Homo sapiens: one gene and its partner. Changing the gene in region 1 together with any one later gene gives a genetic interaction. Each region holds a gene or a part of one and is shown on either strand. Other genes may lie near its edges.

Region 1 (5,428 bases):
CTACAAAAATCTTAAAAAAAAAAATCAGCTGGGCATGGTTGGGCCTGCCTGTAGTTCCAGCTACAAGAGAGGCATGAGTATCTCTTGAGCCTAGGAGTTCAAGGTTGTAATGAGTTGTGATTGTGCCACTGCACTCCAGCCTGGATAACAGGAAGAGACTTTATCTCAAAAAAAAAAAAAAAAATTCTGGAATTTGGACTTTCATGATGGTACTGTGATTATCTTAAGAGAATACTCTTATTCTTAGGAAATACACCCTGAGGTAAAAGGCATACAATCTACTCTTCAATGGTTCACAAAAAAATAAATGTGTGTATGCAAAAAGAAAAATATGGCAAAATATTAAAAATTAGTGACTATGGATAAAGGGTATACAGAGGTCTACTGCACTATTCTTGCAACTTTCCTGTAAGTTTGAAATTATTTCAAAATAAAACGTTTAAGAAAATAGGACACTATTCTCCAGGCGGTTACTTATAAGCTCTAAGGAATAAAATTTTTAAGTACTACTAAAAATCACTCTGCAAAACTAACATAAAGTTACGAGAACTTCACAGTCAAAAATTACAAGACAAGAAGGCGTGGCACCATAAGCAACAGCCAGCAGAAACAAACAGCAGAATCATGTCTGCAAAGACTTCAGATACTGGATTATCAGGCACAAAATGTAAAGTAAGTATATTTAATAGATTTTTAAGAAATAAAAGAAATATTGAGAACATAACCAAGAAAAGGAATAAGACTACCCAAAAAAAGGATGATAGTCTTAAGAAGGAACTGAATAAAATGTCTAGAAACAAAAATATATAGTAAATGAAATTTTTAAAAACCCAATGGCCAGGTGCAGTGGCACATGCCTGTGCTCCCAGATACTTGGGAAGCTGAGACAGGAAGATGGCTTGAGTTCAGAAATTTGAGGTTGTAGTGTGCTATGATCGCCGCTATGAAGAGTCACTGCACTCCAGCCTGGGCAATATAGCAACACCCCATCTCTAACATAAATTTGTAAAACTCAAAGAACATGCTATAACATAGACTAACCTAGAAAACATGCTAAGTAAAATAAACCAGACACAAAAAGACAAATATTTTATGATTCCACTTACATGAAGTACCTAGAATAGTCAAATTTGTAGAGGCAGAAACTCAAATAGTGGTTGCCAGGAGCTAGAGAAAAGAGGAAATAAGGAATTACTGTCTAATGGGTACAAGTTTTGGTTCACGATGATGAAAAAGTTCTGGAGATCAGTAGTGGTGACAGATGCACAATGATGTGAATGCACTTAATGCCACCGAACTGTACACTTAAAAATGGTTAAATGGTAAATTCTATGTTATATGTATTTAACCATAATGAAAAAAATGGGCATAATAGTTAAATAAAAAGTTTTTAAATTCAATAAACTGGTTGAACACAGCTGAAGAGAGAAGTAGCTAACTTCAAGAAAAGTATCCAGAACACAATACAATACACAAAGATAATGAAATGGACAATATAAAAGACAGGTTAAGAGACACGGAGGTAGAGTAAGAAGATCTAACATACTTCAAATACAAGTTCCAAACAGAAAATATGGAAGACAAAATTTAAGAAAAAGGCCAAAAATTCTCCAAAATTGTTGAAAGACACTAATCTTCAGATTTGAAAACCTAGTTAATACCAAGCACGATAAATAAAAAGAAATCAACTTCCAAACATAAAAATGAAAATGCAGATCACCAAGAACAAAGTAGCAGTTCTAAAACTAGCCATAAAGAAACAACAGATTAGTCCAGGCACAGTGGCTTGCACCTGTAATCCCAGCATTTTGGGAGGCTGAGGCAGGTGGATCATGAGGTCAGGAGATGGAGACCATCCTAGCCAACATAGTGAAACCCCATCTCTACTGAAAATACAAAAATTAGCCAGGCGTGGTGGTACACACCTGTAATCCCAGCTACTCAGGAGGCTGAGGCAGGAGAATTGCTTGAACCCAGGAGGCAGAGGCTGCAGTGAGCTGAGATCGCGCCACTGCACTCCAGCCTGGCAACAGAGCAAGACTGGTCTCAAAAAAAAAGAAAAAAAAAAAAAAAAAGAAACAACAGATTAACTGTAAAGGACTGTCAATCACACTGTGTATTTTTCAACAGCAATAAAAGCCAGAAGATAATGAAATAAAATCTATAATGAACAAAGAAAAAACAACTGCTAATCTAGAATATATATTCAGGAAAACCAGTTTCAGGAATGAGACTAAGAAAAAGTTATTTTCCAACAAAAAGTTTTCCAACACACCCTCCCTAGGGAAAATTCTAAAAGATGTACTTCACACAAAGAAAAATGGTCCTAGATCAGAGGTCTCAGATGCAAATGAGAATAAGCAGACATCTGCAAATACAGTGTATAGGCAAATCAAAGTAACAGTGTTTAAAACAAAAGTATCTCATTTGTTGGAGGTCAGGGAGAACTAAAATAAAGCTACACAGAGTTTAACTTCCAAACTTCAAGACAGAGGGAAATGTTAAAAAAAAAAAAAAGACATTCATATAAAATTAAAACAAAAAGCAAGGTAATGATTAATATAAAATTCAGATGGCGGTTACTTAAAGAGTATGTCAGAGATCACAAGTAGTGAGAAACATGAACGGCCATCAAAGGTGCTGGCAGTGTTCTGTTTTTTAAAGTGGTTGGTCATACATGGTAGTTCATTATATAATTCTTTACACACACACACACACACACACACACACACACACACACATAATGATGTATGTCTTTGTAAGAATAAAAGTAAATTCTGAAAATCAATATAGAAGAAAAAAATTCAAAAATCTATGGCTCCTCCCCAAAAATTTAGAATACTTCACAAACACTGGTCTTCAAAATTCAAAGAAAAAGATGAATTATTTCATTCAACAAATACTTACTGAGTGCCTAATCTGCCTACATGTGAGGTGAGAGGTGTCATGAAGATGTGTGATCTCTCTTCTCTCTCGTCTTCCTAACCTTATAGAGCTGCACTAATACAGTAGCCACCAGCCCCATGTGGGTATTCATATTTAAATTAATTAAAATTAAATTCAATTAAAAATTTAGTTCTCCTATAACACTAGATATATTTTAAGTGCTCAGAAGCTATATAGGGGCCACCATATTGAACAGCATAGACATAGAACATTTCCATCATTTCAGAAAGCTCTTAGTACTACCATATTTTATTATGATAGAAATACATTGATAATTTTAAAATCTTAAATAGAAAAAAAAATTTTAACGGATTAAATCCCCCTTAAAAGTCATTTTATTTCTATGAAACTACAGCTTCTTAGTAGTATTTAAAACAGCTTGCTATTTATTAAAAATACATAGGAAGTATCAGAAATTGTTTACCATCTCCTATGTTCCAACAAAAACCATCAGACACAGGGTTTAAAAATAAATAAACAGCCGGGCGCGGTGGCTCACACCTGTAATTCCAGCACTTTGGGAGGCCGAGGTGGGCGGATCACAAGGTCAGGAGATTGAGACCATCCTGGCTAACATGGTGAAACCCCGTCTCTACTAAAAAATACAAAAAATTAGCCGGGCGTGGTGGTGGGCGCCTGTAGTCCCAGCTATTCGGGAGGCTGAGGCAGGAGAATGGCGTGAACCCAGAAGGCGGAGCTTGCAGTGAGCCAGGATCATGCCACTGCACTCCAGCCTGGGCAACAGAGCGAGACTCTGTCTCAAAAAATAAATAAATAAATAAATAAATAAATAAATAAATAAATAAATAAGCTACTATTAAATATTTAAGCACAGTACTACTAACCAGTGATAAAGCCATGTCATAGGGATATAAAAAGCCGCAGGATGAACACTGCACTCTCTCTTAGGAGCATCAATTTTAGTTAAGAGTATTTTAGGCCGGGCGCGGTGGCTCACGCCTGTAATCCCAGCACTTTGGGAGGCCGAGGCAGGCAGATCACGAGGTCAGGAGATTGAGACCATCTTGGCTAACACGGTGAAACCCCGTTTCTACTAAAAATACAAAAAATTAGCCAGGCGTGTTGGCGGGCGCCTGTAGTCCCAGCTACTGGTGAGGCTGAGGCAGGAGAATGGCGTGAACCCAGGAGAGGCGGAGCTTGCAGTGAGCTGAGATCGCGCCACTGCACTCCAACCTGGGGGACACAGCGAGACTCCGTCTCAAACCAAAAAAAAAAAAAAAAAAAAAGTATTTTAAAATACTGTCGACATGCATGTAAGATAGCAAAATGCAACATTTATATAAATTTTAAAATATAAAACCCTACAGGCATCAAAAACTTCAATTTATAGCAGGCACACTTTGGGCTGCATTCCTAGACTTCTGAGGGTACTATTCATCCACATTTCTGCCATTGGGAGTACTTTAAGAGAAAAATTTAAGCACTGTTAAAATAAATGAATTAAACATTTTTTATTTACCAGCAACAATGATACACAACATAACTCTATAAACCCATATCATTTTAATATCTAAAGCAGCAAACCCACAGTTTTCTTTAAAATTAACAGAGGGTCCAAGCTATTTCTACTTAACCTGAACATTTTGCCTTGGACATTCTAATAGAATTTAAATATTTCTATAGCATTCCCAACTTTTAAAATTACGCAACCAAAAACACTCAAAAGAAACAAATGTTAAGCCTTAATTTAACAGTCACCTAGGCTAGGTTTGCACCTTAAGTTCCCCACCCCCACACCCCCCCCCGTCCCTCCCCCACAGCCGCCTGCCCACCCAAGTGAACCAGGGAGTCAATAAGCTCCTCATCTAGACAACTGATGCAATTTCAATAAGCACTTATGTTCATAATTGGTTTGTGTCCCCAGGAGGACTTCTGTGACTCCACTTACATAACCCATTACGCACAGTGCTGCACTATTCTTTCTCTAGAAAGCATTTTGAATACTGATATTTGTACAAGGTTTACTTGCTGTATTAATAAAAAGGCTTTTCTTGCTCTATCTTTCCTGCAGAAGAAGTGAAATGGAAAGCCAATTTCTGCTGCTTCACTATGTCAAAGGCGAGTTATTTATCTTGTTGGCTAATCAACAGAGTAATAACTTAAAGCAGCACCCCCAGGCAGCGCCCACAGTTCAACAGTTTTCTCCAGAGGCTCTGGTTGAGAAACACAGTCTTAAACAAGTAATTTAGAGCTACTTGTGTGAACTCAACTGAAAACAGTCTGAACTGCTCCTTGAAATATGTTATAAGTATTGACTGTGAATCTTGACAAAATTAAATTCAATGGTGGCGAGAATCACAATACGTCCTCTGTAGGCTAACACAAGGGCAGAATGTACCCCAAACCTTCTTTAATATGCATAAATATGTGGATGAATAGTCTCCTCCAATCCCTCAGATTCTGTTTAAGCCAAGATTTTCGGATTTCACAGAACCATAATCTTTAAAAAGGGGCACGAGGA
Region 2 (4,464 bases), on another chromosome or scaffold:
TTTGCTTTGAAACATTTATTCTAGGCTGCAAATCCACAACCCTAGTTGGCCTTCCATTAAAGTCACTAATTCAGCAGTCCCATATTCAATATGCATTACTGTTAATATGTTGCACCATCTCCATTCCCCTGAGAGCTTATATTTTTAATTTTTAAATTTTTATTTTTAGAGACAGTGTCTCACTCTGTCACCTACTTATTATAACCTCAAACTCCTCGGCCCAAGCAGTCCTCTCACCTTAGCCTCCCAAGTTGCCAGGACTACAGGCATGCACCACCATGTCCAGCTAATTTTTAAATTTTTTGTAGAGACAGGGTTTTCTATGTTGGCCAGATTGGTATTGAACTCCTGGCTTCCACGATACCCCGTCTCAGCCTCCCAAAGAACTGGGATTACAGATGTGAGCCACTGCACCTGGCCAGAGAGCTTATATTCTTATAGGAATGGGAAGACTGCCTATGTTATGTGTTGCTACATAATACATTACCCCCAAACTTAGTGACTTAAAACAAACGCTTATTATCTCCATTTCTGTGGGTCAATAATCTAGGCATGACTTAGCTGGGCCAGAGTTTCTCCAAAGTCTGTGATCAAGGTGTCAGTTGGGCTGGGCCTGCAGTCATCTCAAGGCTCCACTAGAGGAGCATTCACTGGCAGACTTATTCAAATGGCTGTTGGCTGATCCTCGATGGCTATTGGCCCCTCTATTGGTTTCTTGCCCTTGGGCCCCTCCATAGTACTGCTTGCTATTCACAACATGGCAGCTTGCTTTGCCCAGAGCAGGGACTCTGAGGGAGGCAGGGAAATAAAGAGCAAGAGAGAGGTCACAGTCTTATTGTAATCTAATTCTGGAAATGACAGCCCATTACTTTTGGCATATTATTTTGGTTAGAAGCAAGACAACAGTAGATCTAGCCCACACACGAGGGGAGGAGGATCACACAAGGAGGTGAATACCAGGAGGTGGGGTCATTGGGAGCCATCTGAGAGGCTGCCCACCACACTGCCTCAAGTAACTAGGGAGAGGTAAAAGTTTATATGCCAGATGACCAAATATTAAAATGTGTGTTACAAATAGTTCACGATGGGCTCAGCTGTCAGACTTTACAAAGGAGCTATGGGACCTTATAAGGACAGTTGGAACTGGCTAGGTATCACATAGTGGTCTTCAAACATTTTTGCTTGCCATAACCTCTAAAATAATTGGGAAAAAGTTGAATGTACTTCCATATCTTAAAGCTGATAATTTAAAATATTATACATTTAATAGCAGCACGGGATTTAGTTTTTGTTAAATTGTATATGTGCTCCAAATAGATTTACCATCAAAACCTGTTTTGAATTTAATATTGGGAGAATTCGCTAGTTTAATTTTTGGAAAATAAAGTATAATTGGCAAAGCTAATCCTCACTGTTGAATCTATCCGTCAAATCAGATATAATTTCTATCAGAAAGTCTATATGACTTGTCAACATAATACCCATAAAGTGAATCAAAAATTATTATTCATTGAACACATCATCTCTTATCAAATTCTTGTGACCTTCCTTCTGGTTGTATAATAGCCTAAAAAACAAAAAAAGGACAAAAGCAAGTTTCCAGAAAGCTGTTCTGACTTGCCTACTTCTGAAAAGTAGTCCTGTATGGTGGGTTCTGAAAATGAGGAACCAGGACTTGCAGAGTAGGCAGTTGCTGGAGGAAGAATGTGAGCTGCATGGGAAAAGACAGGAGGATTTACAAAGAGTGGGTGTTTAATTGGGGATGGAATTAGGTAGTTATTCTGATTTTTAGATTTTTCATATCTTTTATTTGGTCCAATGAAGCAGAAAATTTAAATGAAGTTATTACCTTTGCCTGATTTTTGACACACCTCAAACTATAACTTGAGGTTGCTAACTATGAAACACTGGCATTTAATGATTTAAAGTAAAGAATTCTGTAATTTGTAGACTTCTGAGAAGTTCCAGAAAATAAATCAGATGGTATGTAACAGCGACCGTGTGCTCAAAAGAAGTGCTGAAGGAAGCAACCCTCCTAAACCACTGAAAAAACTACGCTTTGATATTGAAGGATCAGATGAAGCAGATGGAAGGTAGGAACCAGTTTTGAATGTTTTCCAGTAGCCGAGATGGTCATCTGGGGAATCCAGAGTCTCAGCACTGCTCCTGGCTTATACCAATTTCTTTCATGCCAAGTTTATTTGGAAGTTGTGAGAATGGCTCAAAATAATAGATATGAGTGTAGTGCAAAGTTAAAAACATCTTACAAATTGCATACCAACATTCAGTGAAGATATCTAATAAACCCTGATCTTTTTTACAAAGCTATTGATAAAATTTTGTTATTCTTAACATTAAATTTAAAAATGTTTACTCTTGAAAAATATTAACCACTGTATTTTGTGAGAACCACTGAAAAAATACATAGCATCATAAATTTGTGACATTTATGTTTTAGATGGTTAGTTTTTAAATTTTAAAATTAAAAGCTACTCACTAAAATAATAGCATAAAGTAAGTCATCGAAAGCATCATAGTTACTGGAAATTTGAGTTTTCCATTTATAAATACACATGAAATGTTTTGCATTTTTTTAATCTGCAGTAAACATCTCCCAGGAGAGTCCAAATTTCAGCAGAAACTGGCAGAAATGAGTAAGTACTTTTTTCACCTTGTGTAAATGAAATAAACAATTGTTTACACTGCAAGAAGTCTTTTCGTTATATAAAAGAATGTATAATTTCTTCAGTTGGCAGGTTTGTTTATGCATTTAAAATATAATTCAATCAAGGTTATTTATCTACAAACATTTGTGGATTAAATGTATGATGTAAAATGAAGGTCATTTTTACCCTTTCTATGATCTTTCATGCAGGAAGACTAAGAAGTGAAACATTGCTTGACCACATTCAACACAAATGGCTACAGTTAGAAAATACTTTAGCAGAACTACAAAGAGGAGCTATTTGGGAGTGTTAGATATAGGGAAAAGTTTTATAAACCTAGCATATGTAAACATCATCACCCTTATTTAAGGAATAACCTTTGATTCTACCATTTTTAAACTTTCCTTATTTGCAAATCTTAAAACAATTTCAAACAAAAGTTTCCATTACTGGAAATCAGAATTTTAATAAAGAACACTTATGTCATTTTCCAAGTTATACAGAGTGATATCATGTTAGGGTAAGTGGAATTCTATTCAAAACTACTCTGAGACTAGACAAAAAAAATAATCCAAGGATAGTAGATGGAAAGCACATTAGGAAAGAGATAAATGTTCACTAACTACTATTGGGTTGTCTTAGGTAGTTATGGTAGTGAGTGTAACATTTCCCAGTATCTGCTGCCAGATCCATTGATAGGAAAAGGAACTGGGATTTTGAAAGAAGACAAATATTCAGGAGATAGGTGTTAAAACAATCATTCCTAGGTCACAGGACACACTAATGAGAACAATACCAATTAAAATGAGAGGCTTTCTTTTAATACATCTTTGTAGATACTAACTTTGAAAATAAGATATTTAAAAGGATGCTTTTTTTCTATGTATTTTTTTAAAGTGTAATTAAAACTAAATAACTAAAACAAAATTTTCTAGTTATAAATGAATCTCTTTTTGGATTTTATGTCAACTTACATATTCCTATTTTAACTCTTAAATAGTTGCATCTTTTCCCCTCAGTACATGAAAATAGACAAGAGGCTCATAACCAAAATCAGGCCTTGAAGACATATGGAAACATTTTGGAACCCACAAATATGCACTTAAAAAGGAGCTGAAAGCTGTAAAAACATGTATATTTTCTTAGAGAAGTGTTCAGTTGCTATAGTTAGTACATTTCCCAGTGACACACTTAGCTATGATGGCGAGCTTCCTCTGCCAGGCCAAAGTTCAGGACCTTTGTGCATCTACAAAATTGTGACAAAGCAGGCAGAATTTTAACCCCTGAGGCTAAGGCATTTCTTTAGGATGCTCTTCAGCTTTTCTTAAAGAATTACATTTAGAAAAGATCATCATACAATGCTGGATTGCCCAGAATGGAAGGGCATTCCATTTTTCCAAATGTGCTTCTTTATAAAGAACTCATGCCTACCTCTAAAATCAAGTTAAGAATTTTTAAGAAATTTAATAAGTATCCCGGCTTTGTCTATATTGTAATTCATAATATGCTTTTAACATGGCCATGCCCCGGGTAGGCATGATGGCTTATGTCTGTAATACCAGCACTATGGGAGGGCAAGGTGAGAGGATTGCTTGAGGCCAGGAGTTCAAGACCAGCCTGGGCAACATAGCAAGACCCCATCTTTACAAAAAAATCCAAAAATTAGCCAGGCCTGGTGGCATGTGCCTGTAGTCTTGGCTACTGGAGAGGCTGAGGTGAGAGAATTGCTTGAGCCCAGAAGGTCAAAGCTGTAGTGAGCCATGATCATGCCACTGCACTCCAGCTTGGGCAACAGAGC

What was found. Genes that interact genetically often act in the same process or in processes that back each other up.
Region 2: changes in FRS2 (region 1) and RB1 together harm fitness more than expected from each alone (negative genetic interaction), as found in Homo sapiens cells (one large-scale study listed by BioGRID).

What each region holds. Positions count from the first base shown.
Region 1 is NC_000012.12:69,476,038-69,481,465, reverse strand, and holds part of FRS2 (fibroblast growth factor receptor substrate 2), read right to left. Parts: intron 1,168-5,428; exon of another isoform or gene 1,107-1,167; intron 1-1,106. UniProt on the Homo sapiens protein: Adapter protein that links activated FGR and NGF receptors to downstream signaling pathways.
Region 2 is NC_000013.11:48,474,751-48,479,214, forward strand, and holds part of RB1 (retinoblastoma-associated protein), read left to right. Parts: intron 1-1,699; exon of another isoform or gene 1,700-1,772; intron 1,773-1,950; coding exon 1,951-2,093; intron 2,094-2,604; coding exon 2,605-2,654; intron 2,655-4,464. UniProt on the Homo sapiens protein: Tumor suppressor that is a key regulator of the G1/S transition of the cell cycle. The hypophosphorylated form binds transcription regulators of the E2F family, preventing transcription of E2F-responsive genes.